Linked DNA regions of Homo sapiens. The protein of the gene in region 1 purifies or fractionates together with the protein of each later gene. This does not show direct contact. Each region holds a gene or a part of one and is shown in the gene's direction. Other genes may lie near its edges. The genes, in order: CDK12, ERCC3, SRFBP1, DHX8, IPPK, RNF111 and ZNF606.

Region 1 (4,209 bases):
CTGGAACTCCTGGGCTCAAACAGTCCTCCCACCTTGACCTCCCAAAGTGCTGGGATTACACACGTGAGCCACCACACCAGCCTAATGCAGACTTTTTTTTTTTTTTTTTTTTGAGATGGAATCTTGCTCTGTCACCCAGGCTGGAGTGCAGTGGCGTGATCTTGGCTCACTGCAAGCTCCACCTCCCAGGTTCAAGCCATTCTCCTGCCTCAGCCTCCCGAGTAGCTGGGACTACAGGTGCCCACCACCACACGCGGCTCATTTTTTTGTATTTTTAGTAGAGACGGGGTTTCACCATGTTAGCCAGGATGGTCTCGATCTCCTGACCTCATGATCCGCCCACCTCGGCCTCCCAAAGTGCTGGGATTACAGGCGTGAGCCACCGTGCCCGGCCAATGTAGACATTTTTTAAAGGTGATAAAGGTGATATTTTTGTTGTTGTTATTTGGTAAACTGTTGATTATCTCTCAAAATTTTCAGTCTTATACTCTCTTCTCATCTCACAGTTTACCCTATAGGGATACTATAGGATCATCTTAGCCCTTTGTAATTACTACTAACTGAACAGAACAAAACTGGTAATAAAAACCTGTATGGGGGGATTAAAACATTTCACAAATCCAAATAATGTGGATCATTTAGGATTATTATCCGAGTATTTTTTCTTTCCTCTGTTATAACCAGTTCTTTCTGTTCTCTGCCTTTCTGCCCTTAAAGCAGTAATGTCATATTTTCCTTTCTGCATGCCCTGTAATGTAATAACCAAAGATTCCCCAGACCTCAGGAGGTAATAATTTCTGCTTCTGAAACCTCCGGAATTCATGATGTTGACTCACTCACTCCATTGTTCTTGCTTTTGCTTTGTTTTCAGCCGACTTTGTGGTAGCCCTTGTCCAGCTGTGTGGCCTGATGTTATCAAACTGCCCTACTTCAACACCATGAAACCGAAGAAGCAATATCGAAGGCGTCTACGAGAAGAATTCTCTTTGTGAGTTTGGGGAAAATGAACATCTCGTTTCTGTGTCTGGCTGGTGTTGGGACTTGGCTTTTTCCTGGTCTGGGTAGTTAATGTTGTCCCAGTTTATCATGGCAACACAGTGTAGGAAAACATTTTAGTTTCGAACAGTATATGAGTTTTATCATAGCCCTTTTGTAATTTTCTCTTCTGAAGGCTTTAGACAATAGAAAACCATTTTATTTTGAACAATATATAAATTTTCTCATAGCCTTCTTGATCTTTCCATGAGAAAAAGAGAATGGAATTGTTGGCTTCATGGGTTTTGTTTGTTTGTTTTTTAAATTGAGACAGGGTCTTGCTGTGTTGTCCAGGCTGGAGTGCAGTGGCACGTTTAGGGCTCACTGCAGCCTTGACCTGCTGGGCTCAAGCAATCCTCCCACCTTAGCCTTCATTTTTTTTTTTTTTTTTTGAGACAGAGTCTCACTTTGCCACTTAGGCTGGAGTGCAGTGGCATGATCTTGGCTCACTGCAACCTCTGCCCCCCAAGTTCAAGTGATTCTCCTGCCTCAGCCTCCCAATGTAGTTGGGATTAGAGGCCTCTGCCACTGCACCCAGCTAATTTTTGTATTTTTAGTAGAGACAGGGTTTCAGCATGTTGGCCAGGCTGGTCTTGAACTCCTGACTTTGTGATCCACCCACCTCTGCCTTCCAAAGTGCTGGGATTATAGGCGTGAGCCTCTGAGTCCGGCCCCACCTTAGCCTTCTGAATAGCTGGGACCACAGGCACCCGCCACCACACCTGGCATTTTTTTTTTTTCCGTGTAGAGATAGGGTCTCCTAATGTTGCCCAGGCTGGTCTTGAGCTCCTGGGCTCAAGTGCTCTTCCTGCCTCAGCCCCCCAAATTGCTGGGCTTAAACTTTGAGAGGCTGAGGCAGGAAGATCACTCGTGCTACCACGCCTGGCCATGTTTTGGTTTTGTTTTCTTCTTACTTTTTTCCCTCTCTGTTATTTTATTTTACTTTTTTTAACTTTAATAGATGGATAGAACTGGCCATATTTTTGTGTGTGTCACCCAGGTTGGAGTGCAGTGACGCGATCTTGGCTCACCACAACCTTCGTCTCCCAGGTTCAAGGAATTCTCCTGCCTCAGCCTTCCAAGTAGCTGGAATTACAGGCACCCGCCACCATGCACAGTTAATTTTTGTATTTTTAGTAGAGATGGCATTTCACCATGTTGGCCAGGCTGGTCTTGAACTCCTGACCTCAAGTGATCTGCCCACCTCAGCCTCCCAAAGAGCTGGGATTATAGGTGTAAGCCCACCACACCTAGCCAGAATTGGCCATATTTTTTACTTGTGTTATAGCACAGCATTTCTCGTTTGTTTGTTTTTGAGATGGGGTTTCGCTCTTGTTGCCCAAGCCAGAGTGCAGTGGCATCATCTCGGCTCACTGCAACCTCCGCCTCCTGGGTTTAAGTGATTCTCCTGCCTTAGCCTCCTGAGTAGCAAGGATTACTGGCACGTGCCACCACACCCAGCTAATTTTTTGTATTTTTAGTAGAAACGGGGTTTCACCATGTTAGCCAGGCTGGTCTCGAACTCCTGACCTCAGATTATCTGCCCGCCTCGGCCCCACAAAGTGCTGGGATTACAGGCATGAGCTACTGTGCCCGGCCCAGCATTTCTTAAATCCTGTGTGGGAGCAAATCTGCTTGCTTGTGTTAGCCAACCTCCAGCTTGCTTTCTTTGGTTTTACATGGAAATTCAAAGACTTTTTTTTTTTTTTTTTTTTTTTTTTTGAGACCGTCTCACTCTGTCACCTAGGCTGGAGGAGTGCAGCAGTGTGATCTTGGCTCACTGCAACCTCCGCCTCCTGGGTCCAAGCGATTCTCAGCCCTCCAAGGAGCTAGAATTACAGGCGTGCATCACCATGCCTGGCTAATGGGGTTTCACTATGTTGGCCAGGCTGGTCCTGAACTCCTGGCCTCAAACGATCCACCCGCTTCAGCCTCCCAAAGTGCTGTGTGGGACTGTAGGCATGAGCCACCATTGCACATCCTTTTTTTTTTTTTTTTTAAAAAGAGATGGGCTCTTGCTCTGTTGCCCAGGCTGCAATGCAGTTGTGCAGTAAGAACTCATTGCAGCCTCAAATTCCTAGGCTCAAGTGATTTTCCAATGTCAGCCTCCCAAATAGCTGAGACTACAGGGTGCACAGCATTGCACCCAGCTAATTAAAAATATATATATATTTGTAGACATGAGGTTTCAGTATGTTGCCCAGGTTGATCTCAAACTTCTGGCCTCACGCAGTCCTACCTTGGCCTCCCAAAGTGCTGGAATTACAGGTGTGAGACCCTTTGAAACAAAATTACAAATTTGAGAACTGTAGGGTCATTGTGAACTTGTCCTTTCTGTGTTCTTTTCCATAGCATTCCTTCTGCAGCACTTGATTTATTGGACCACATGCTGACACTAGATCCTAGTAAGCGGTGCACAGCTGAACAGACCCTACAGAGCGACTTCCTTAAAGATGTCGAACTCAGCAAAATGGCTCCTCCAGAGTAAGTGCTGGTAGCCATGTTGTGACCCTAAATCTTTCCCTGGGCCTTAGACGATGAGAAACTCATAAAAGAACCACAGATGCCCAGTAAGACCCAAATGAAGAGGTGTCTTTGAGTATTATGGTTGAGGTTTGTTTTTTTTGTTTTATCTTTGTTGTTTTTTTCTTTATATAAGTAATAGATTTAGCTTTGATACTTGTTCTAATTTGACTCAAGCTATCTTCTTTTGTCCCTGGATCTCCATCCCAGAATATTGTTGTGTAGAGCCTCTTTGAAAGTATTCCTTTTAGATTTTTGTGGGTTGGTTTATTTATTTATTTATTTATTTTTGAGATGGAGTCTCTGTCGCCCAGGCTGGAATGCAGTGGTGCAACTCAGCTCACTGCAACCTCTGCAGGGTTCAAGCGATTCTCCTGCCTCAGCCTCCCGAGTAGCTGGGACTACAGACACACACCACCACACCCAGCTAATTTTTGTATTTTTAGTAGAGACGGGGTTACACCTTGCTGGCCCAGCTGGTCTCGAACTCCTGACCTCAGGTGACCCACCCTGGCCTCCGAAAGTGCTGGGATTACAGGCGTAAGCCACTGCGTCCAGCGTGTTTTTGTTGTTGTTGTTGTTGTTGTTGTTTTGAGATGGAATCTTGCTCTGCCTCCTCCACCTCCCGGGTTCTAGCGATTCTCCTGCCTT
Region 2 (4,209 bases), on another chromosome or scaffold:
AAAAACTGTCCACCGTCACATTCCAAGACAGAGGGAAGGAGTGTGACATTCCCAATGCTATGGGATGATAACCATTGAGTTCATTGATAGGGTTGTACCCTTTGGCAGGGAGCTGGAAAATTTTTTTTTTTTTTTTTTTTTTTTTTTGAGACAGAGTTTCACTCTTGTTTCCCAGGGTGGAGTGCAATGGCGCGATCTCGGCTCACCACAACCTCTGCCTCCCCGGTTCAAGTGATTCTCCTGCCTCAGCCTCCCGAGTAGCTGGGATTACACACATGCGCCACCACACTCGGCTAATTTTGTATTTTTGGTAGAGACGGGGTTTCTTCATGTTGGTCAGGCTGGTCGTGAATTCCCAACCTCAGGTGATCCACCCGCCTCGGCATCCCAAAGTGCTGGGATTACAGGCGTGAACCACCGCGCCTGGCAGGGAGCTAGAAATTAAAGAGAAGTTTTTAAAACTTAGTGTTATGGGAAATCAGCACAATAATGGCTGAAGGGCACTTTTCTCCTTTCTGCTCATCTCTTGGAGCATGCCTGTGTCTTGGCAAACAGTTGCTTCCAGCCTTTTTTTGGAAATAGCAGTGGTTTCTTTGCACCTCTCTTTGGGCTTCATGAAATGTGGAGATGCTCCTTGTATAGACTCTGTGCTGAGAGTAAGAGATGTTGAAGCAGGAAAAAGCATAGTCCAAAAAGAAAACGAAAAATGGAAAGGAGGGAATCCCGAAGAGAATGGTGGGCCTAAACCTAGAATCAGTGGGGAAGGCTGGGAGGTGCATCTGTAGCCAGTCATTTTTTTGGGTGTAACGATATTCCTACATGACGAGGGCTTTCTACTTGAGAAGAGCTAGCCTGAGCTCCTTTTTCCCTCTGATGTGTTTTCAAGATAACTGAGGCATTATTCTGTGGTCTAACACAGCTTCATTCTTCTCTAGACCCTATATCTACGGACCTACGTCTCAGGGGGAAAGGATGCAAATTCTCCAGAATTTCAAGCACAACCCCAAAATTAACACCATCTTCATATCCAAGGTTTGTGTGGCATATGGGGTGGAGGTGAGGCCCCTAGCACTCTGGGGACCTGGGGGGTACACTATGATTCCTGGACAGTGAATTCATGTCTGCTGAAGGAACTTCTCCTGCATGTTTTCATTTCCGACATGTCCAGGGATAGGGGGCACTGCCTGGGGTTAGTGGAAGGAGCAGACTGAGGATTTGCATGCATCATGGATAATCTATAAAGGCTATTTGAGGTTTTTCCAGTTCTTTTGGGGATGTAGAAGTTTTAAGTTGTATTTCCTTATTTATAAAAGGAAAAAAAGTTCATTTCCTACTCTGGCAAAAGTAGGCATTTAGATGAAGTTCTCTTTACAAGTTGGAGATCCTGTGTGTCGCGGCAGCCTTTGTCCTGGTTCCTGGTGTCCCTTGATGATGGGTGGTGGATGTCAGCACAGACTTCCGCAGGCCCAGCTCAGGGATGGTTTACTCTGCAATCAGAAGCTGTAGCCCCACAGTTTAGAATAGTCATTCAGATTAAGACAGACCCAAAGCCCAAAAGAAATGAGATTTTACAACCGGGCGCGGTGGCTCACATCTGTAATCCCAGCACTTTGGGAGGCTGAGGCGGGTGGATCACCGGAGGTCAGGAGTTCGAGACCAGCCTGGCCAACATGGAGAAACCCTGTCTCTACTAAAAATACAAAAATTAGCTGGGTGTGGTGGCAGACGCCTGTAATCCCAACTACTCAGGAGGCTGAGGCAGCAGGGTTCAGTCACTTGAACCCGGGAGGTGGAGGTTGCAGTGGAGCTGAGATTGTGCCGTTGCACTCCAGCCTAGGCAACAAGAGCGAGACTCCGTCTCAAAAAAAAAAAAAAAAAAAAAAAAAAAAGAAATGAGATTTTATGTGATTGTGGCTGGGCGCTTATAAGCACCAAACCTTCATGTCTGTGGCTGGGAACCTCGATGTTTGGAGCCCCAGAGCTGAGGAATCCACCTACAGTCAGAATTCCATATGGGGCAGTTGTTCCTCCCAGGTCACATCCCACGTGTGCTGCTGGTGTCAGTGGCCAACAGGTAAGAGTATGGATGGTTTTGTGGAGACATATTTCTGTAGCCAAAAAAATGAATGACTCAAAGTCAGTCTCTGTTCAAGGGCCCTCTCATCTCTGGGCTCCTGGCACCCAGCACTGAATGTCACTGATGCCTGGTATTAATTCTTCAGGATGACTCTTAGCAGAACTCACACAAGGTCCTGGAGACCCAGAGATGCCTTTCTGAGGTTTATTGCTTCACCTCTCTCTGCCTGCATCAGATAGACCCTGGTATAAAGAGGAGAAAAGAGTGATTATGTTTCAAAATTATCTACAGAACTTATTTAAATTCTGGATCAGTTGACTTTTTTTTTTTCCTCATATATAAAAACCTTCCAACTTGTTTCTGTAGGTAGGTGACACTTCGTTTGATCTGCCGGAAGCAAATGTCCTCATTCAGATCTCATCCCATGGTGGCTCCAGGCGTCAGGAAGCCCAAAGGCTAGGGCGGGTGCTTCGAGCTAAAAAAGGTAAAGTGGCCTTTCATCTTCTGTTGCAGGAGGTCACTCCTCTTAAACCACTTTAGTTAGGAAGACGATAGGGGTGAGAGCTGCCATGTGCCCTGGGGCTAAATAGACTCTGGAGGGAGAGAATCCCAAAGCAAAGACCTAGATCCTTATGGCCCATCATTATTTCTCATACCTTGGGGGTGAATATGCAGGTGTTTTCCATGACAGTGTCACGGAATCCACACAGATGTGCTCTGTACACTGTGCAGCTGTGTTGGTAGATGGTGAGAGGGAGCCAGGGCAAGGCAGTGCTTATGGGGTAGACATGGAAGGGAGAAAACAGAGCTGGGCCACCAGTGTAAGTGGAGGAGCTGGAAGCTGCTTCTGGAACTTGATCAGGAGGCAGGGAAAGGTTTGGTAGGAGCAGCTTGGGCAGACACACAATGGGCACGTCATTCATAACCTGTGCAGAGTGCCGCCCTGGTGGCAGCTTGCAGCAGGGGCAGGGCAAGCTCAGTGAGTGAGGAGGTGAGAATCCTCATTGCAAAGGCTTTTTCTGAGGAGGCGTGGCACCCCTGTGCTTGCTTACTGCGGTAAAAGGGCCCAGACTGCCATTGTGGACATGGCAGGGACTGACACTCTTGCTAAGAGATGGCCGTGTCTGTCTTACTGGGACCAGGGCACATCCTGAGACAAGGACACAAGCCCTATCCTCAAGGAGTCTGCTTATTCAAGGAGGCATCTGGACTGCTAGAATGTTTGAAAATGACAAGATTAGTGGGCATCTGTTGGAACTGTACTGCGTTCAGATGTGTTTAAGAAGCGTCTAGTAGCTTGTATTTAAAATGGAGATGAGGCAGATAGCATGGACTAGAAATAGCATGGACTCAGGCACCAAGCCAGCTGTGTCACCTTTGGCAAATTATTTTCTCCTCTGAGACTTGGTTTTCCCATCCAAAGTGGGGGTGACAATCCTGTCTTGCCAAGACTGCTGTGAGGATTCAGCTTATAAGTCATAAAATGTAGTCGGCTGGCTGGGCACAGTGGCTTACACCTATAATCCCAGCACTTTGGGAGGCCAAGGCAGGAGGATAGCTTGAGCCCAGGAGTTTGAGACCATCTTGGGCAATGTAGTGAGACCCCATCTCTACAAAAAATAAAACTAGCTGGGCGTGGTGGTGTGTACCTGTGGTTCCAGCTACTTGGGAGGCTGAGACAGTAGCTTTTATAAACTGACAGGACTATGATCTGCTAGCAAATGTGAATATAATTCATTACTTATTCCTTACTCTAATTTGAAAACTCCTTTATTGATTGATTGATTGATTGATTGATTGAGATAGAGTCTTATTCTGTCACCCAGGCTGGAGTGCAGTGGCACAATCTCGGCTCACTGCAACCTCCATCTACTGGGGTCAAGTGTGATTCACCTGCCTCAGCCTCCCGAGTACCCGGACTACAGGCGTGCACCACCACGTCCAGCTAATTTTTTTTGTATTTTTAGTAAAGACGGGGTTTCACCATTTTGGCCAGGCTCGTCTCTAGTGATCCACCCACCTTGGCCTCCCAAAGTGCTGGGATTACAGGTGTGAGCCACTGTGCCTAGCCTTAAAAACTCCCTTAAATGTGAATAGAAGGCCAGGCGCGGTGGCTCACGCCTGTAATCCCA
Region 3 (3,864 bases), on another chromosome or scaffold:
TTGCCATTTTCCAACATATGGGTTTGGTTAGTAAATTGAGGTGTGTTTTGGGAGTGGGGGAAATGGACAGTGTAGGATAGTGGCGTGTTTGTTATTTAGAGATTTATTACGCTTTTCTAAAAAGAAATGAAGTGATTATCCATTACACTATAAGTCTAAAATTAATGCTTTGCCTGGCTACATATCGTAATGTATTTTTTGCAGGGGTACTGAAGATGCACTGTTAAAAAACCAAAGACGGGCGCAAAGATTGCTTGAAGAAATCCATGCCATGAAGGTAAGGACTTGTGTGGGTGTGTATGTGTGTATGTTTCTGAGTATCCTGTTATCCTGCATTTTGTTTGTGTGTGGTATTGCTTATTTGAATATTCCCGAGAGTTGCGTAAGACATCTTGTATCAGTCTGTTTGGTGAAGAATGTAGCACATTTAGAAAATTGTAACATTTAAGCTTGCATTTTTCTGTTTTTGACTGAATTTGTTAAAGTGCTAGGCTAATTTGAGTCAAAATTGTGCCAAACTAAATTCATCTATGTTTAATAATGCCTCCTGCCTCAGGTTTTTATTTTTACTGTAACTTTAGCACGAAGTCAGTTCAAGAATTAAAGTCTTCATGCTATTTGGGAATGTGGATGGTGATATTGGTGGCTGACATCATGCTTTCCTTGTTGCCAGCTCAATAAATTTTTATGTATTGGTATCGGCATTTTATTCAGTTCTGTAGTAACTTCAAATAAAATTAGTGTTAGACCAATGTGATCCCATATTTTTGTTTTTTTTTTCAGTCAGACTCTTCACTAGCATAATTTTTAGGTCTTCTTGCTGCTCTTACTTTGAGGAAACTTTCATTTACCAAATGACATGACATTAAATGTCTGGGAGACTGTTTTACTGTAGAACTTAAAAACAACATTTGGTCCCAGCAATTTTCTTAATTGCAGGGTCATTTTGCATGCATGTTTGCCTATTATATTTTGGTATAACTTTCAAGTTTTGAATTAAGTAAAAGAGAAATAAAACTCTCTAACTATTTTAATTGAGTTAAGTTATCAAAGATTCTCAGCCTTTCTTCCTTTTAAACGGATAGTAAAGTGTTTAATAGGACAAAGTTATCCCAGTTAATCTGAATAAAAACATCTAGGAAACGACTCTTTGATATGAAGTATATTTGTTTCTTGTGTTCTTCCTTCCCTCTGCTGCACACTATTATAAAATTCATGGAATCCATCTGATATAACTTTTATTTCTCAAGGTTATAATTCCCTTTTTATTCAGTCCTTCAGGAAAAAAAAGTCTTCTGTATTTGACTGTCAGTGATCATTTGTGTCTCTGTGGTTTGCAGATTATTTAGTTTTTTCATATACCTTTTTAAAATGATATTCCTATGAGAAATAAAATCTTTAGAGATTTTGTCTTGAGAATAGCAATAAAATAGGAAGTTACAATTTATCTCTTTCACTTTCTCTTAACCAAGGTTCTTACTAAATTACATTGCCTACCTAAATTTTTCCCTGTAATTTCTTCTGAATAGTCATTTTTGTAGTCTTAAATTATTCAGAGGCTTTGAGCTACTATATAATTGCTGATTTTATTTTACCATGGAAAGAATGCAGTGTGTGTGTGTATGCATGTATATATATATATAATATATATATGTGCATACACATACACATACAATGTATAGTTGGCTACTCTGACTTTAACTTCTTTTGTAATACTGTTTAAAAACTGGAGTAAACTGGAATTTGTTAAATTTTTTATATATATAAAAAATATATACATACACACACACTACATTCTTTCCATGGTTTGTTATATATAATAACTTGTATGTGGTGTATGAAGAGTTTGAGAACAAAAGATACTCAATCTTTAGAATACTTCCCTTTTGTAAATTTCAGTGATACATTTGATTAATTAGAAAGAAAAGTTGTCCTTTTTGATCTAAATGTAAAGCCTGTTTTCTGTTTCTTGTTTTGAATCTCATCAGCAAAGGGAAATCTGATTCAGTGATAAAGTTTGTAGGTTTACAAGATTACCACATCACTATCGTGGTTTGGTTTGGTTTGGTTTGGTTTGATTTGTGTTCTATTTTTCCCTGTGATTGCGCAATGGAATGGTTGCATCATAGAAAGCCAAATTCATAGCCTATGTATTCCTTAAATTCATAAAATTCATAGTATATATATGTCTTGAGTTTGTGGCAGGAGTTAGGGCAGGCTGGGTTGGCTACTCTGACTTCAACTTCTTTTGTAATGCTTTTTAAAAACTGGAATGAATTTAAATATAAAATGAATACTAGAAAGACTATATATTTGCTGTTCTTACGTGTCAAATTTTATTCCTTATTTATGGTTCTTTTACAAATTTTGTTGTCTTTTCTAAACAAAGCAAATAAATAAAGCATTTTTCTTAATTAAAAGGTCATTTGTAATTTTCTTAGGAAATGGTTATTACCTACTTGGGAGTATCAAATAAATGATGACAAAACAAACTCTCAATCTCAATTAAATTTGGAGAAAAGACCTCTGCTCATTTATTTTTCCAGAGAAATTTTTTCCTTGGCTCAGACACTGCTTCATTTTTATAGTCTTATTGATGACATACTATCCTATTCTTGCTTTCTATAATAATAGGGTATTTTGTTGCAGGATGACTTCTTTGTGAAGAAATCATGAGTATTTTTAGAAATGAGAGTTTGCTTTTTCTGGCCAACTAAGAAAAAAAATTGGCTTGATCTTTACACTATAAAATCATAGGTTCTAATTTTATAGACTATGGTGTATGAAACCCAAGTCTTTGCTGCCTTTTCTATAATAGTGTCCATACTTTTAACTTTGATATTAGTAGAAATATTGCCTTCTAAAACAGTTTCTTTTTCTTTGAAAGTTAGTTAAATTAGCCTATCAACACTTATAGATCAGTAAGTTACTTAACTGGAGAAGGAGATGGTAAAATTCAAGCATATACTGAAATTACTCAAAATGTGCAACAAGTCTCTTACTCAATAATAAAAGTAACAACTAGCTTTTACTGAGCATTTACTATGTGCCAGGCATTATATTATGTGTTTTATATTTACTGTCTCACTAGGTAGATATCATTTTTATCCCTGTCTTACAGAATAAGAAACTCAAGCTTAGAGAAACTGAGCAACTTATAACTGATTATAAAGCTAATTATGTTATCCACTGTAGTATACTGCTTCAGTAAGTTGAGAACATCCTATGATATATCCAGACTCACTTTCCTAGATATTGGAGGAGATAATTTAGTAAACATGAAACTTGCCATCTAGGAAAAAAAAGACTGAAAGATGTGCAACGTGTTTTCAGATCCTTTAATTCCTGACAGGTAAATATACACAGTAGCCTATATCTGTATTTCTTTTTTTTTTACTTGAGATGGAGTCTCTCTCTGTCGCCCATGCTGGAGTGCAGTGACCCGATCTCTGCTCACTGTAACCTCCGCCTCCTGGGTTCAAATGATTCTCCTGCCACAGTCTCCTGAGTAACTGGGACTACAGTTGCCTGCCATCATGCCTGGCTAACTTTTGTATTTTTAGTAGAGACAAGGTGTTGCCATGTTGGCCAGGCTGGTCTCGAACGCCTGACCTCAGGTGATCCGCCCACCTCGGCCTCCCATAGTACTGGGATTACAGGCGTGAGCAACCACTCCTGGCCTATCTGTATTCTTTTTTAACCTCTTCCTCTCTTAAGGCTGTTACTTCTTCCTATCCTGAATATTCTTTAAGATGAGAATTTATGTATTCTTCTTTGAGACCTTGTTCTGCCTGCTACCTCTTACTTCTCCTCTAGTTTAAAACTTTCTCCTTTTGTTCTATTCTTCCCCTAGTTTTACATTCT
Region 4 (4,209 bases), 4.0 Mb from region 1:
GGAAGTTGGAAACAAGTTTTGGGGGTAGTTCTAAACCTTGGGAAATAAAATGGTTGCAGGGAGCCTAATAACTTTTCTCCCCAAAGAGTCCTAAATATCGGCTTTCTCTGAAGCTATTATACTAGGTTCATGCTACACCAGGTTGACACACTATGTTTCATGTATTCCAATTAGCTAAATTCAAGTGCGTAACCACCCTTCCCTACAGGACATTCTTTGCCTTTTAAGTGTATTTAAGCACTGATATGGGAGCTGACAATTTTCGTTCTATGTTTCTTTTCAAAGGATTCTCTTATTAGTAACTTGCTGCGTCTCATACAAACCATGCGGCCTCCAGCGAAGCCTTCCACTAGCAAAGGTAAGCAGAGCTTCCAGCTGAGCTTAGCTTCTAGAATGGTGTAGGTTTTGAACATCCTGTAAATTGCATTTGTTTTCCTCTCAGCAGTTGCTGAGCAAGTAAATGTTCCAGTAAGATTTTTCAAATGGGCTGGGCCTAGCGGCTCACTGCTGGAATCCCAGCACTTTGGGAGGCCAAGGTGGGAGTATCACTTGAGCCCAGGAGTTTTAGACCAGCCTGGGCAACATAGAGAGACCTCATCTCTACAAAAAAATAAAAAAATTAGCCAGGCATGATGGCGTGCCTCCGTAGTTCCAGCTACTTGGGAGGCTAAGGAAGGAGTGTTGCTTGAGTCCAAAAGGGTGAAGCTGCAGTGAGCCATAGTTGCACCAATGTACTTTAGCCTGAGTGACAGAGGTTTTTTTCCCCGTTTCAAGGGGAAAAAAAATTTCAAACGACTTAAGACAAAATAAAAAAGATAAGACATAACCCAATGAGTATTGCTACACTCCTCTTTCTGCTACATTTCGAGATAGTTTGTGATCAATGTATTTAGAAAATTAAATTACATTTATAGTAACAGGTATGATTAATATATAGCAAAATGCCATGTTCTGTTTCAGTTTGATACAAATCTATTGTTGAAGTTATTTTGTTAATCATTAATAATATTAAATATATATCTCTTTTTTTAACCCCTTCATGCTCTTTAATGAAACAAGATCCAGTTGTTAAACCTAAAACAGAAAAAGAAAAGCTGAAGGAACTCTTCCCAGTCCTTTGCCAACCGGACAACCCTTCTGTTCGGGTACTGATACCATTTTAAGAGTGTCTACTATAAATATATATTCTCAACCCCTTTTCTTTGTCTCATAGTAATTTTATTAATTTTAAGTTTGCCTTTGTTGTAACTTATTTTTAAGAATGAAAGTGTTTGATCACTCCCTGAGCATGTACTATGTATTGAATTTGTTAAGGGGTTCTGAGAATGATATTCAAGGGAAATGAGATTGGGAATTTGGGGAAGTAGTGATTAGGAATATGAAATAAGGTTCTGGAACAGATGCCTAAGGTGTGAAATTAGATTTTTTTTTTTTGCTCTGTTACTTGTTAAAGGTCTAATTTTTAAAGCATTTTGATTTTTAAATTTCATTTTAATAAATATTTATTGAGTACTTACTGTATGCCAAACACTGTTCTAAGTACCTGGATAACAGCAGTGAACAGAACAGACAAGAGTTTCAGCCTTTGGAGATTATATCCTAATTTTGGGGTAGGGAGCAGGAAATAAACATGTAAACATTCTGGTGGGGAGGAGATAGGCAATAAACAAACAAATAGGTATGTAACATAGCAGATAGCAATAAGGGCTATTTAAAAAAATAAAGCTGGAGTGGGGGTAGGGAGGAAGAGTGCAGAGGGAGAGTTGCTTTTTAAAATTTTTAACACCTGTTTTCTATTAATATAATCATCACTTGCATTCTTTCATGGCAGGGATGATTAATATCTAACTGCCTTTCATAGAATTCTATTAAGGACAGAGGGGATTTGTCAAATGTAGCAGTAATTCTCAAGAGCCTTTTTTCCATTTCTTCTGCATCTATCCTGAATCAAGTTTGAAATCTCTGCCCCTCTTCTATTTCCCTCACATAGTGATTAGTGATTTATAGATGTACCTGAGGTACATACAGATTCTTGAGTAGTTTTTTTTCCTAACTTTGCCGGCCTCTACCTCTGCAGACCATGTTGGATGAAGATGATGTGAAAGTTGCTGTGGATGTCCTGAAAGAACTGGAAGCTTTAATGCCCAGCGCAGCAGGCCAGGAGAAGCAAAGAGATGCTGAACACCGGTTTGTCCTTAGTGTCCTGTCCTTTGGAAGTTTAGGGTACTGTGACAGTTGAATATTATGGACCAGCCAAGCAAAATTTTGGGCAAGTTTACAGAATCTGGACTGGTCATATATCATATTGTTGGATCTGTTTTCATTGCTTCCTGCTAAGTGTATGTAGCAAATGCTAGGTTGTTCAGAATATAGAAGTCAGGGTTGAAAGAGGCTGAATATGTTTGTGGCTCAATTCTTTATTGGCTTATAGGGATGTCGTAGTTATTGAAACTCTAATTCAGTTCAAAACCTAGTGGGTACCTACCATGTGCATGGCACTGTACTGGGTGCTTGGGGATGCGAAGATGAAATCGGATTGGTTTCTTTTTTAAACAGGTGCTTATTGATTTGTTAGGGACAGGACAAAGAAGAAGAAGCGGAGTCGAAGCCGAGATCGAAACCGAGATCGAGACAGAGATAGGGAACGAAACCGAGATAGAGACCACAAGCGGAGACACCGATCCCGCTCTCGATCACGTTCCAGGACCCGGGAGAGGAATAAAGTGAAGTCTAGATATCGGTCCAGGAGCAGGAGTCAGAGTCCCCCCAAAGACCGGAAGGACCGGGACAAATATGGAGAGCGGAATCTGGATAGATGGCGGGATAAGCATGTGGACCGCCCTCCTCCAGAAGAGCCCACCATTGGTGACATTTATAATGGCAAAGTTACCAGCATCATGCAGTTTGGTTGCTTTGTGCAGCTGGAAGGACTAAGGTAATGACTGGTGCTCTTTTGTTCACACCAGTGATGGGCAGAATTTCTTTTATCACTGAGGATGTTCACATTCTAAAAAGTTACTTTGATTAATGACACTTTAGTCAAATCAGCCATACATGGTTCTTAGAAATTGACTCTTTTGAAATGTTACAGAGCCATTTATTCCTTTCTCTGTCTTCAGGAGATCTGTCCTTTGCTTGTTGGGACAGATAGAATTTGCTTCCCCACCCCATGTCTCCCCATGAGGAGAGTGTTAATACTATTTTATTGTTTGACCACCTTCATGGTACTTTTCTCTTGAGTTTAAGACCATTTTCTTTTGTTAGTTCCAGTAAGGGTAGAAATTGGTTGGGGGAAAAATATTTTTTGGCATGTTCCAGATGTGTCTGGCTCTCCCTCAGGAAGCGGTGGGAAGGCCTGGTGCACATCTCTGAGCTCCGGCGGGAGGGTCGTGTGGCCAATGTAGCTGATGTCGTGAGCAAAGGCCAGAGGGTCAAAGTCAAAGTGCTGTCCTTCACTGGGACCAAGACCAGCCTGAGCATGAAGGTAGGTGAGATGGTCAGCCTGTTCTTACATGTGATGGCCAAGGGAATGGAAGAGGACAGCAAGTGAGACAGCTCCCTTGTTTTTGTGCCTTAGGATGTGGATCAAGAGACTGGAGAAGATCTAAACCCAAATAGACGGCGAAATCTTGTCGGGGAGACCAATGAGGAGACCTCAATGCGGAATCCTGATAGACCCACTCACTTGTCCCTTGTCAGTGCTCCTGAAGTAGAGGACGACTCACTGGAACGCAAGCGCCTCACCCGAATCTCTGACCCAGAGAAGTGGGAGATCAAACAGGTTGGGGCCTTTAGTTTTCATGACCAGATAGTCATTCAGCATGTAGCATGGTGCTTAGGGGTGTGCCCTGGAGCACGATGGCCTGGGATAACTTTTGGCCACTGTATTAGTCTGTTTTCACACTCCTGATAAAGACGTACCTGAGACTGGGCAATTTACTAAAGAAAGAGGTTTATTGGACTTAGAATTCCACTTGGTTGGGGAGGCCTCACAATTATGGAGGAAGGTGAAAGGCATATCTCACATGGCAGTAGACAAGAGAGCTTGTGCAGGGAAATGCCCTTTTTAAAACCATCAGATCTCATGAGACTTACTCACTATCGTGACAACAGCGTGGGAAAGAGCTGCCTCCATGATTCAGTTACCGTCCACTGGGTCCCTCCCACACACGTGGAAATTCAAGATGAGATTTGGGTGGGGACACAGCC
Region 5 (4,209 bases), on another chromosome or scaffold:
TATCACTGCACATAGTCTCATGAGAAAATGTTTCCCATCAAGTTAAGGTCAGATGGAGCCTGTGCCTGATGTGGTAACCTGAACCAAGCCTAGCCCACCAGCTCTGCCCTGTGGCCTGTTTGCTCAGGCTGTGGACCGAGGAGGAGAGAGAGCAATTCCCAGAAGGCAGCTTTTTAGGACCTGTTGAGTTCGAGCAGAGGGTGTGTGTCAGTGGGATAAGAGATGGGTGAGGTAGAATAGGAGGAGTCCGTGGTCTTGTGGATGCTGAGCATGCGCCCAGCCTCCTTCCAGCCGGGTGTGGGAGCAGGTGGACCCTGCTACTGTACTCCTTAGATCCACCTCATTCAGTCCAAGAGAGAGGGAGGCCTTTGCCAAGTTTTTCCAGGTAAGGAGAGGGTTGCTTTCTCTGAGAGGACATCAGCTTCTCTCAGAATTGAAAGGTCCCTAATGAGTCCTGTGCTGACCCCCATCCCCTCTACCATGAGAACATGATGCGCCTTCAGCCAGCCTGAGCTCGTCCTGCAGGAGCCGAGGGCCTAGGTAAGGAGATCTGCATGGTCATTGGCTGTCAGCACTAGAAGGAGCACAGTGATGTTCTTCCTGCAGTATGCAAACATGGGATGAGAGAGAGCCTTCTGTGCAGCGCAGGACTTGTAGGAAATGAGGCCTGGGGATGGAGGAACTAGGTGTGGGCTACAGGAGGGTGGGAGGTTGTGCCCAGGGTGGGCAGGAAGGTAAATAGCAGGCCAGCCATAGAGAGGCGTTTAAAGGTGTTCCTGACAGAAGGTGGTCAGCTTCCCCAAGGCCCTTCCACTCAGAGACGGCCCAGGATGATTCTCATTTTGCCTGTCAGTTTGCATTCTGCCTCTGTTTGGGATGGTTGTGCACCTGAACTTTCCCAGGCACAGGTAACCATGGTGTTCTCTGCCTCATGTGGTGTGGACCCTGTGGCATGCTTGAGAGGCTCTCGGCAGCCTGGCATGTTCCCTGGTGTGTGTCTGGAGCTCCAGACACTGACCCTGTGGGGGCTCCTTGATGAGGGAACTTCCCATCTGGGCACAGTTTCCTCGCTGCAGCCTGAAGGTGCAGTACTTGGGCCAGTGGCCACATCTCAGGTTAGTGAAGTCCACAGGTTGCCCCTTTATGCACTGCCGCAGGATTTCTCTCCTGTGTGACGCCTGCGCCTGCCTCCTTCGCCTTCAGCTTGTTGGTTTTGGCTCAGTGTCCTGTCCTATGAAGGTCACTTTAGGTTTGGTTTGTCATTCCATCTCCTAGGTGTCTTCAGATCTGGATCATGCACTTGTCTGGGGCACTGAGCCCCTTCCGGACCACCTCAGCCTTGGGGAGCAGGGGCAGAAGGTGGCCCACTCCTGTCATGACACTAAGCTGTCATGATGTTTTCCTTCTTACTGACAGAGGTGACAGGAAAGACTTTGCCATTTAGTTGGCTTACCAGCCAACTAAATTGATCACATGTGTGGACAAAGCTGCTCACTTCCAGTTGTTCCAGTTTCGTGACCTTTCTGAGAGTCTGAGAGCTTCAGATCATTTCTGCAAATTGTTTTGTTGCCTGGGGAGTTTTGGTGTCCCTTTGGTACCTGTTTAGTGCTTGGGATATTTGTCTGGGCATTGAAGGTGTGAAGCTCAAGCGGTCAGGTGCCCTTCTACTGTTTCTCTTCTCATCTTGTGTTTTAAGATTTCTGGTTCATAGATCATATATATATGTATTTTTTTTGCCATACAGCATGATTTTGTATATTTTAATAATTTAAATGATTATTTTGTAGTGGATGAATTAAGTCCTTTATATGAGGATGTGTTTACAGTTACGTAGAAAAAGCAGGTTACAAAAGAAGATGCATGATGTGGTTATAATTACAAAATGATTAGAAGAAAATAGATGAAAATGTTCTAAGTGGCTGTAACTGATAGTATCACGAATCACTTTTACTTTTTTTTGTTTTTTAAATATTTTCTGAATTTCCTACAATGGATATGTATGATACTCAGGAAAAAAGATTAATTTTTAAAAAGTTTATACTCTTTGATTTACTAATTTCTGTTCTAGTAGTCCGTTCTAAGGAGATAATTAGAAACGTAAATAAAGATCTTATACACAAAGATATCCATTACAGAATCACTTAGAACAGGTTAAGTGGAAAGCCATTGTGCAGTCCTGCAGGACTGTTAACTGGGCCATACTTCCTACTGTGGATGCTGAAAGCACATACGTTTATGTTCTCTGTTTTTTTCTGACTGTATAACATGTGCCCAAGCCCTTGGTCGCTCCCTTTTACAATTTTTAGCTGGACCTAGTTGAAATAGTCTTAGCTTTCTGTTACTGCTAGCATTTTGTTTAAACTAGTGATGTATTCTGCATTTGGGATTTTTAGTGGCGCTCTAGGCTGACGCAGCTGATGTGGCTTCTTTCCTGGTGATGTTCCTTCTTGTCTCATTTGAGCTCATTGGAGAGCTGTGCTTGTGGCTCGCTCTTTGTTTATTCCTTTCTTTGTATCTGCAGTTGCGTGATGAGGTCTGCTGTTTGGTGACTGCAGCCTGTGACAGTGCCTCTCGTGCACGGGGGTTTGTTGGTTTGGCCTTGGCTCACCTCCTACTTTTACACCTTCTGAGGTCACACAGCCACTTTTCTTCTGCCTGACTGAGCCTCCTTCTGCATCAGAATTCAGTCAGAGCAAAGCTCCCCAGTGACTTCCTGTGTCTTCTGAGAGCTGCGATCCAGGAGGGTGAGAAAAGCATCATTACTGTGTCTGCAGAGAGCAAGGCTGTGCCTAGGGCCCGGCCACTCCTGCCTTGTTGCCAAGCGGTTGGGAGATCTGAGGGCCCGGACTTGCTCACAGTTCCCTGTGGCCCTCACTGTGGGCCTCTAGGCAGCCCTGCTTCCCCTTTACAGGCAGTGAGGCTTTCCATGCCTATAGGGGTCAGCCCCATGCACGAGGTGTGCCTATCCCCACAGGCCTCCCCATGTTCTGAGAGTTGTGTGGGTGTGTGACCTCCCCCATGGCCCACACCTGTGCCTGCTTCAGTCCTGCAGAGGACACCATGAGGTCAGGACGGAGTTGCCGAGGCTTGAGGACATGCCCCATACAGGTTGGACAAGGGGCCAGCACTTACTGCGCCCTGACCCCAGGCTGTCTCCAGTCTGGCCTCCCTGCTCTTGCCTGCAGAGTACTGGGCTCCCATCCTCCACAGGCATCTTGGTGATGTCACTTTTCATCCGGTGTCAAATGTGCTTTGTATTTCTATCTGAGGCCATACATTCCCAGTGAAGCGAAGCTCACCCTTGGGAGCGCTTCCTGTTGGAGCCCAGTACCGTAAGCCCTGCTTCTTGTTCCCTCCACGGTCCTACGCATCCTGGACATCCCTTTCTGGGTTGCAGAGGTGGACTTCGGCACCTCCTGCCCCTGGTGACTGACAGACCCCGGGCAGCCTTCTCTGGCTGGGACAGAGCTGGAGCTGGAGCTGCGGGGGTAAGCTAAGGAGGGTCTACAGGGAGGGCAGCCTCTTGAGACTGGACATTTGGGATCCCCCATGGCCCCTGCCTGGGAGTCATCTTCACAATTCGGAAGAAGCTGGAGCTGAGCATTGCTTCTAGAAGGCATCCTGAGGGGTGACCCCTGCTGCTGTTGTCTTTTTCTGTCTTCCCTTCCCATGAAAGTTGTCTGATCTCAGCTTCAGGTTATCTCCTCAGCCTGATGGAAGACTTGACCTTGGTCCTTGTCTTTTGACAGATCTCTGGAACAGCTGATTTTGTGGGTGATACCCCTCCAGAGTGAGTCCTCTGTGGGTGGCGGGAAAGTCTCTCCTCATCTGTCCTGAAAGGCTCTTGTAGTTAGTAGCTTTAATTCCACCCATAAGGTGCCCCCTCAGGCTTCCCATTGGCAGGTGTCCCTTTTAATGTATTGGGGTTTTTGTGGCCTTCTATTTTTATTTAACACCAATTGTTGCTTCTTCTCTCTGAAAATATAGAATATCAGAAGGAAGGAAGTGAAAAACATCCAATATTTCTCCATGAAGAGAACAAGTTTTGTTAACACTTTGGTGCACTTTCTTCTAGTCTTTTTCTATTTATTGTCAAGCATCGCTTAACACCAGGGATGCATTTTGAGAGCTGCATTGTTAGGTGATGTTGTTGCCATATGAACACACCTAGATGGTAGAGCCTGCCCCATGCCCAGGCTGTGTGGGGCA
Region 6 (4,209 bases), on another chromosome or scaffold:
GCATATTGTCTGTATTATCTAGATATGAGTAGTAGTAGTTATAGGTAGTAGAAGAGAATATTCTTTCAGGCATTTGATTTAATATACTTAAGCTGGCACATAGTAAAATAAATAAGAGAATTAAAAATTTAATACACACCCCAAGTGATATCCCTGTAGTACAGGTATTATTTTTTTCACTTAATTATATTAAAAAGATAGTTAAATGGTAGACATATTTCTAGTTGATTTTCTGATAATCTCTAAAACTTTTGTAGAAAAATGCCAAGTCATCTATGGCTTTTTTTTTTTCTTTTTTCTTTTGTGTCGGAATTTTGCTCTTGTCTCCCAGGCTGGAGTGCAATGGCGCGATCTCGGCTCACCGCAACCGCTGCCTTGCGGATTCAAGCGATTCTCCTGCCTCAGCCTCCCGAGTAGCTGGGATTACAGGCATGTGCCACCACGCCTGGCTAACTTTGCATTTTTGGTGGAGACGGGTTTTTTCCATGTTGGTCAGGCTGGTCTCGAACTCCCAACCTCAGGTGATCTGCCTGCCTTAGCCGCCCAAAGTGCTGGGATTACAGGCGTGAGCCACTGTGCCCGGCCGGCTTTTTTTTTTTCTTTTAAAATCTTATTTCTTTAGAGTCATGTAAGCAATCATTACATTTTTATTTAAAGTTGAAACAAGTATTCATATTTATAATTGGTGGTGAAGCATCATACCAATAATAGTGTATCACAGTTTAGAAGTAGAGTTCCTCAGAGTTGTATGGATAGTCTTAATGGGTTTTTCCTCCTTTTGCTCACATAAACTTGTTTATGATGTGAATTACTAAATCCCAACCCTAATTTTTAGTTTTGAAAGTTAGTATTTTTTTTTAGCTATCGTATTTTCTTAGTGCAAGGTTTACTAATAGTGGTGTATTCTACACTAGTATCAGGAGTAATTAGCATGCAGTCATCATGACATAGCAATGAAATGATTGGATCGATCTACACAAAGAGGGACTAGTATTATGGTTTCAGTATTGAAACAGTGTGTAACAGCAAGCCATTTATAATGTCACCAAGGAGATATATCTTGTACGCATTTGCCTCCTTTGTAAATTAGATCAGCCAATAATTTTTACAAAAATAAAAGACTAGAATATGGTTTTATCAAACAGCAAATAATTTAGAATATTATCTGTTATATTTGCTGCTTTTTAAGTTAAATGCAATACTTGTGTTTATTTCCTTTTGAACTTTCCTCTTCTAAGTTCAAAATACAGCCTGATACAATTACAGGGATGGATTTTAGAAAAAAAAATTTAGAACATGATACAATACAGCGATGGATTTTAGAAAAAAAAATAGTATGAATTACTCCCTGGGTGGGAACCTCTTAGTTATATGGGATATTAATTTTGCATTTAATGACTGCATGATATGTTAACTCAGAGAAGAGTTAACTGGTGTACAAACACACACCACAGCATACACCAAACCACCCCCCCTTGCTCTCCTCTACCCTTGTCTCATTGGACAGACTAAACTGATCAAAAATCAGAGCAGATTTAACCATAAAGAGTTGATTGCATTGTTTTGGCTTTGGGACATGAAATGATGGAAAAGAAATTGGGTTTAGTTAATTGTGCTGTGAATTGCTTCTTTGTAAATTAATGTATGGCTGCATGTTCTCAGAATTTGTCTGGTTTTTGGCAAGTTTTCATTGCTTCTCATGATCTCCATTATCAACATGAGGACTTAGTAATTACGGATGAGGAGTCTAATTTTTAAATCTTCAGCCCATAAAGACTCCAAGATCTCCTCCTCTGAAATCCACCAGAACATAACTCTGACATGGGTTTCTGGAAGAACCCCAGCTGTTTCCAACATACATCATGAGACTTCTGTTGCTGATGGAGTCTCTGATGCCTAGAAATCTTGATACTTTTCCTCTTGACTTTTTCACTTTTTTTAAACCTCTTGACTTTCTGGCAGGAGTTTTATTGAGATTTTATTTCACTGGGTTTTTAGTATATTCACAGAGTTGAATAGCTGGCACCACAATCAGTTGTAGAACATTTTCAGTTCACTGAAAATAAAAGAAATTCTATACCTTTTTTTCTTTTTTTTTTTGGGAGACAGAGTCTTGCTCTGTTGCCCAGGCTGGAGTGCAATGGCGCAATCTCGGCTCACTGCAACCTATGTCTCCTGGGTTCAAGCGATTCTGCTGCGTCAGCCTCCTGAGTAGCTGGGATTACAGGTGCCTGCCACCATGCCTGGCTAATTTTTGTATTTTTAGTAAGACAGGGTTTCTTTTCACCATGTTGGTCAGGCTGGTCTCAAACTCCTAACCTCAGGTGATCCACCCGCTTCAGCCTCCCAAAGTGGTGGGATTACAGGCGTGAGCCACTGCACCTGGCCCACCTTTTTTTTTTTTTTTCCCCACTCTTGTTGTCCAAGCTGGAGTGCAGTGGTGTGATCTCAGCTCACTACAACCTCTGCCTCCCTGGTTCAAGCAATTCTCCTGCCTCAGCCTCCTGAGTAGCTGGGATTACAGGTGCACGCCACCATGCCCGGATAATTTTTTGTATTTTTAGTAGAGATGGGGTTTCACCATGTTGGCCAGGCTGGCCTCGAACTCCTGACCTCAGGTGATCTGCCCGCCTCGGCCTCCCAAAGTGTAGGGTTTGGCCACCGCGCCTGGCCAGAAACTCCATGCTTTTCGGCCATCATAGTTGAATCCTCCGATGATCCCCAGCCCTAGGTAACCACATTCTATCTATGTAGATTTGCCTATTCCAGACATTCCATATAAAGGGAATCTTACATTATGTTATCTTTTTGACTGGTTTCTTTTACTTAGCATATTGTTTATCCATGTTGTAGCTTGAGTCAGTATGGTAGTCTGCGCCCCTGTCCAAGGGGAAACCATTCTGAGTCCCCCAGTGGATGCCTGAAACCATATAGTGTTTTTTTTTTCATATACCTACATGCCTATGATAAAGTTTAATTTATAAATTAGGCAGAATAAGAGACTAACAACAACAATAAAGTAGCAAAATTCTAACAACATACTGTGATAAAACTTATGTGAATGTGGTCTCTCTCTCATAGTGTGAGTAACTGAAGCTGTGGAAAGTTAAACTGGATAGTGAGGGACTACCGTACTTCATTTCTTTCTATTGCTGAGTAATAATCTTTTGTATGGATTTATTTATTCATCAGTTGATTGGCATTTGTGTTCCCACTTTTTTGGCTGTTATGACTAATGTTGCTGTTTATAAGTTTTTTTATGAATATGTGTTTTCATTTCTCTTGGGTACATACCTAGGAGTGGAAATGCTAGGTCACATAGCAATTTTGTGTTTAATTTTTTTTTTTTTCTTGAGATAGAGTCTTGCTCTGTTGCTCAAGCTGGACTGTAGCGGTGCAGTCCCAGCTCACTGTAACCTCTGCCTCCCAGGTTCAAGCGATTCTCATGCTTCAGCCTCCCAAGTAGCTGGGATTACAGTCAGTGCGCCACTATCCTGGCTAATTTTTGTATTTTTAGTAGAGATGGGGTTTCACCATGTTGGCCAGGCTGATCTCGAACTCCTGGCCTCCAGTGATCCGCCCGCCTTGGCCTCCCAAAGTGGTGGGATTACAGACATGAGCCACCGCGCCCAGCTTGTATTTAATTTTTGAGGATCTGCTAGACCGCTTCCCAAAGTAGCTTGTATCATTTTACATTTCCATCAGCAATATATGAGGGTTCCAATGTTTTTTTTTTATGCATCCTCTCTAACACTTGTTATTACCTGTGTTCTTTATTACAGCCATCCTGTTTGGCCCCATTCAACTCTTAGATCACATGTACCTGTGTTTTATCATTGTGACTTCTGTGTTCTTGCCTTTAATTAAAGTGATCCTTGTCTGACTGGCTGCCTTCTGTAATTTGCTCATTGCCATGCTCATGTTCACTCATCTTTGTATTCCTGGTTTATCACTGATCCTGCTGAACTACAGATAGCGCGTGATGGCTGATCTTGGATACAGCACTGCCTGTGCTTGTGAATAAGAATAAAAGAAGATAGTGGTTTTGATAGCTTTCTGTAGGAATAGGTCATTCTATGCCTTAATTATTGTCATTTGTTCTGATAGTAAAGTTATATACTATAGTAACATGGGAGACCTGTAAGATTATATATTTCTGTAACCCATTTGTAGAGAGGGAAAATACTTGCTTACTAAACAGCTGTTGTA
Region 7 (4,209 bases), on another chromosome or scaffold:
GAAATTACATATAGTAAAGAGAAAAAAAGAAGCAGAGAGAGAGGGCAAGGTCTAGTTCTTGTTGGGACCTGCCTGGGGCTTTAGACCCTGTAGCAATCTGGATAATGACTTCCCCCACAAAGATATCTGCATCCTAATCTCCAGAATTTGTGAATGGGGCACCTTGTATGGCAAAAGGGACCTTCAGATGAGAGTAAATTAAGGATCTTGCTGTGGGGAGATTATCCTGGATTGTCTGAGTGGATTCTAAATGTACTCACAAGGGTCCTTTTATAAGATTGTGGTGGGAGGGTCAGAGACATGGGAGAGGATGTGATGACAGAAGCAGAGGTTGGAGTGATGAGCTTTGCAGATGGAGGAAGGAGCTGCGAGCCAAGGAATTGGGGCAGCTTCTAGAAGATGGAAAGGGCAAGGATATGGTGGATTCCTTAGAGCTTCTGGAGGGAGCACAACCCGGCCAATAACTCCATTTTAGCCCAGTGAAAGCCGTTTTGGACTTCTGACTTCCAGAACGGAAAGATCATAAATTTGTGTTACCTTAAGTTACTAAATGTGTGGTAATTTGTTACAATAGCAGAAAGAAACTAATATAGCCTCCTTTGGTTGTTAGAGGATTGATACTTAAGCAGTGATAATAGGCAGTTCCTGTGTATTAAACTTGCCAGGAGTTTGGCTGGATTCTGAGTCTCGACTTTAGTCATCAGAAAAGCTCTCTAAGGATAGCAGCAGGGCCATTGTTCACATACAGATTAGCAGACTGTAACTCCTGTGTCTGTTTTTTCACACTATGCTGTCTTCCTAGTCCATCTATCATTGCTCTAAAAATATTCTGTGGTGGATAGAAGTGTAACTTTAGGGGTATCCATAAACTCTGGTGATGTTTGCCCTTTGGGTTGGTGGATCTTGTGTGATTGACTGGATTCTGTGACATAGGAAACAAAGCATTTTGTCATAGATAACATCCTGGCTTGAAGCCTCGCTTGGTGATACTCTCTAAACACCCCTCTCCTCCTTTTTTCTGCACTTGTCAAGATATGGGAGTAGAAGGACATTATAACACAGAAGTGAGAGCACTCATGATGTAAATATTACTTGCTAAAGGCCTTGTGTGCTCATCTACCTAACTTTTGTTAAGATGAAAGGCTTTATTCTTTTTTTTTCTTTTTTAACCTTAATAACATTCACTGGGTCCTTTTGTCAGGGGTCTTCAAGACCACCTCCAGGTTCACTGATTCACTATGAGTACTTATAGGACTCAAAAGTCATTATACTCAGGATTATGGTGTATTACAGTGAAAGGATACAAAGCAACATCAGCAAAGGAAAAAGGTGCATGAGGTTAGACCAGGTGCAAGCTTCCAGTAGCGTACATGGGGCACACTTAATTCCTCAAGCAAGGAGTTGTGACAACACGTGCGAAATTTCTACTAGGAAACTTGCCTGAGTCTAGGAGTCCAGTGTGTTTATTGAGAGGTTGCTCATCCAGGCACACAGTGCCTGCGTGACTCACTGCCATCGCTGAAACTCCAGACCACCCTGAGGGAAAGCAGGTGATCACTATGAATGACATTGTTTGCACACATATCTAAATAAGTTAAAAGTAAATGTGCTTCAATACCTTGAGCATGCAAAACACTCTTACTAGTTAGAACATTCCAAGATCTTAATTCCTAGGAGTTGGCTAAGGGCCAGTTAGGAAACAGGCTACCTTTGCAAGGTTTGAGCACGTCAGGCCTGCAGAGTTAACTCTTTCTTGCACATTTTTTTTTTTTTTTTTTTTGAGACGGTGTATCGCTCTGTCGCTCAGGCTGAAGTGCAGTGGCGCGATCTTGGCTCACTGCAAGCTCTGCCTCCCGGGTTCATGCCATTCTCCTGCCTCAGCCTCCTGAGCAGCTGGGACTACAGGCACCCGCCACCACACCTGGCTAATTTTTTGTATTTTTAGTAGAGACAGGGTTTCACTGTGTTAGCCAGGATGGTCTTGATCTCCTGACCTCATGATCCGCCCGCCTCGGCCTCCCAAAGTGCTGGGATTACAGGCGTAGCCACCTCGTCCGGCCTCTTTCTTGCACATTCTTATACTGGTCTTCCTTTTCATGGAAAGTACTTTTAAATGGTTTCATTAGTTTTCAGTACACACTTTGTATTCTGGTTAACTGTTGTTTACTTTTCACTATTCTTTTCCCTATTATGATCTTTCTCTGAGTTCTAAGCCTGGACTTGAAAACAAATTTATACTAGTGTTTTTGATAATATGGACAGTAAATCTCACCATTCCCACTTTATTCTAATGTCTTTCTCTATGCTCTCATAGCTTTTTTTCTGTCTGTTTCAGAATGGGTGAGAAATCTTGAAAGCAAAGCATTGATCCCAGCACAGAGCATTTTTGAGGAAGAACAATCCCATGGCATGAAGTTGGAAAGATATATATGGGATGATCCTTGGTTCTCCAGGTTAGAAGTTTTGGGATGTAAAGACCAATTAGAAATGTACCACATGAACCAGAGTACAGCTATGAGGCAGATGGTCTTCATGCAAAAGCAAGTACTATCCCAGAGAAGCTCTGAATTCTGTGGACTTGGGGCAGAGTTTAGCCAGAACTTAAACTTTGTTCCATCTCAGAGAGTTTCTCAGATAGAACATTTCTATAAGCCTGATACACATGCTCAAAGTTGGAGATGTGACTCAGCCATAATGTATGCAGATAAGGTTACCTGTGAAAATAATGATTATGACAAAACTGTTTATCAGTCCATTCAACCTATTTACCCTGCAAGAATACAAACTGGAGATAATCTTTTCAAATGTACTGATGCTGTTAAATCTTTCAATCATATAATACATTTTGGTGATCATAAAGGAATTCACACAGGAGAAAAACTCTATGAATATAAGGAATGCCATCAAATCTTTAACCAGAGCCCATCATTTAATGAACACCCAAGGCTTCATGTTGGAGAAAACCAGTATAATTACAAAGAATATGAGAATATCTTTTATTTCTCATCCTTTATGGAACATCAAAAAATTGGTACTGTAGAGAAAGCGTATAAATACAATGAATGGGAGAAAGTCTTTGGGTATGACTCTTTCCTTACTCAACATACAAGCACTTACACTGCAGAGAAACCCTATGACTACAATGAATGTGGGACGTCTTTCATCTGGAGCTCTTACCTTATTCAACATAAGAAAACTCATACTGGAGAAAAACCCTATGAATGTGATAAATGTGGAAAAGTTTTTAGGAATCGCTCAGCCCTTACGAAACATGAACGGACTCACACTGGAATAAAACCCTATGAATGTAATAAATGTGGAAAAGCCTTCAGCTGGAATTCTCATCTTATTGTACATAAGAGAATTCATACAGGAGAAAAACCTTATGTTTGTAATGAGTGTGGGAAATCTTTCAACTGGAACTCTCATCTTATTGGACATCAGAGGACTCATACAGGAGAGAAACCTTTTGAATGTACTGAATGTGGGAAATCATTCAGCTGGAGCTCCCATCTTATTGCCCATATGAGAATGCATACTGGAGAGAAACCCTTTAAATGTGATGAATGTGAAAAAGCTTTTAGGGACTACTCAGCCCTTAGTAAACATGAAAGAACTCATTCTGGAGCAAAACCATATAAATGTACTGAATGTGGAAAATCCTTCAGCTGGAGCTCCCATCTTATTGCCCATCAGAGAACTCACACGGGAGAGAAACCATATAACTGTCAGGAATGTGGCAAAGCATTCAGAGAACGCTCAGCCCTCACTAAACATGAGATAATTCATTCTGGAATTAAGCCCTATGAATGTAATAAATGTGGAAAATCCTGTAGCCAGATGGCTCACCTTGTTAGACATCAAAGGACTCATACTGGAGAAAAACCCTATGAATGCAATAAATGTGGAAAATCCTTCAGTCAGAGCTGTCACCTTGTTGCTCATCGGAGAATTCACACTGGTGAGAAACCCTATAAATGTAATCAGTGTGAAAGATCCTTTAACTGTAGTTCTCACCTCATTGCACACCGGAGAACTCATACTGGAGAGAAACCATACAGGTGTAATGAATGTGGGAAAGCATTTAATGAGAGTTCATCCCTTATTGTACACCTAAGAAACCATACTGGAGAAAAGCCCTACAAATGTAATCATTGTGAAAAAGCATTTTGTAAGAATTCTTCCCTTATTATTCATCAGAGAATGCAT

Evidence for each region.
Region 2: the proteins of CDK12 (region 1) and ERCC3 purify together in Homo sapiens (affinity purification with mass spectrometry, with the first as the bait; one large-scale study listed by BioGRID). This does not show direct contact.
Region 3: the proteins of CDK12 (region 1) and SRFBP1 purify together in Homo sapiens (co-immunoprecipitation; one large-scale study listed by IntAct). This does not show direct contact.
Region 4: the proteins of CDK12 (region 1) and DHX8 purify together in Homo sapiens (co-immunoprecipitation; one large-scale study listed by IntAct). This does not show direct contact.
Region 5: the proteins of CDK12 (region 1) and IPPK fractionate together in Homo sapiens (co-fractionation; one large-scale study listed by BioGRID). This does not show direct contact.
Region 6: the proteins of CDK12 (region 1) and RNF111 purify together in Homo sapiens (affinity purification with mass spectrometry, with the first as the bait; one large-scale study listed by BioGRID). This does not show direct contact.
Region 7: the proteins of CDK12 (region 1) and ZNF606 fractionate together in Homo sapiens (co-fractionation; one large-scale study listed by BioGRID). This does not show direct contact.

The regions. Positions count from the first base shown.
Region 1 is NC_000017.11:39,516,569-39,520,777, forward strand, and holds part of CDK12 (cyclin-dependent kinase 12), read left to right. Parts: intron 1-871; coding exon 872-988; intron 989-3,387; coding exon 3,388-3,519; intron 3,520-4,209. UniProt on the Homo sapiens protein: Cyclin-dependent kinase that phosphorylates the C-terminal domain (CTD) of the large subunit of RNA polymerase II (POLR2A), thereby acting as a key regulator of transcription elongation.
Region 2 is NC_000002.12:127,269,688-127,273,896, reverse strand, and holds part of ERCC3 (general transcription and DNA repair factor IIH helicase/translocase subunit XPB), read left to right. Parts: intron 1-935; coding exon 936-1,032; intron 1,033-2,443; coding exon 2,444-2,561; intron 2,562-4,209. UniProt on the Homo sapiens protein: ATP-dependent 3'-5' DNA helicase/translocase. Binds dsDNA rather than ssDNA, unzipping it in a translocase rather than classical helicase activity. Component of the general transcription and DNA repair factor IIH (TFIIH) core complex.
Region 3 is NC_000005.10:121,975,111-121,978,974, forward strand, and holds part of SRFBP1 (serum response factor-binding protein 1), read left to right. Parts: intron 1-204; coding exon 205-277; intron 278-3,864. UniProt on the Homo sapiens protein: May be involved in regulating transcriptional activation of cardiac genes during the aging process. May play a role in biosynthesis and/or processing of SLC2A4 in adipose cells.
Region 4 is NC_000017.11:43,490,106-43,494,314, forward strand, and holds part of DHX8 (ATP-dependent RNA helicase DHX8), read left to right. Parts: intron 1-285; coding exon 286-358; intron 359-1,059; coding exon 1,060-1,145; intron 1,146-2,077; coding exon 2,078-2,187; exon of another isoform or gene 2,188-2,269; intron 2,270-2,556; exon of another isoform or gene 2,557-2,575; coding exon 2,576-2,935; intron 2,936-3,339; coding exon 3,340-3,484; intron 3,485-3,577; coding exon 3,578-3,781; intron 3,782-4,209.
Region 5 is NC_000009.12:92,663,341-92,667,549, reverse strand, and holds part of IPPK (inositol-pentakisphosphate 2-kinase), read left to right. Parts: intron 1-4,209. UniProt on the Homo sapiens protein: Phosphorylates Ins(1,3,4,5,6)P5 at position 2 to form Ins(1,2,3,4,5,6)P6 (InsP6 or phytate). InsP6 is involved in many processes such as mRNA export, non-homologous end-joining, endocytosis, ion channel regulation.
Region 6 is NC_000015.10:59,025,445-59,029,653, forward strand, and holds part of RNF111 (E3 ubiquitin-protein ligase Arkadia), read left to right. Parts: intron 1-4,209. UniProt on the Homo sapiens protein: E3 ubiquitin-protein ligase. Required for mesoderm patterning during embryonic development. Acts as an enhancer of the transcriptional responses of the SMAD2/SMAD3 effectors, which are activated downstream of BMP.
Region 7 is NC_000019.10:57,978,406-57,982,614, reverse strand, and holds part of ZNF606 (zinc finger protein 606), read left to right. Parts: intron 1-2,335; coding exon 2,336-4,209. UniProt on the Homo sapiens protein: May act as a transcriptional repressor.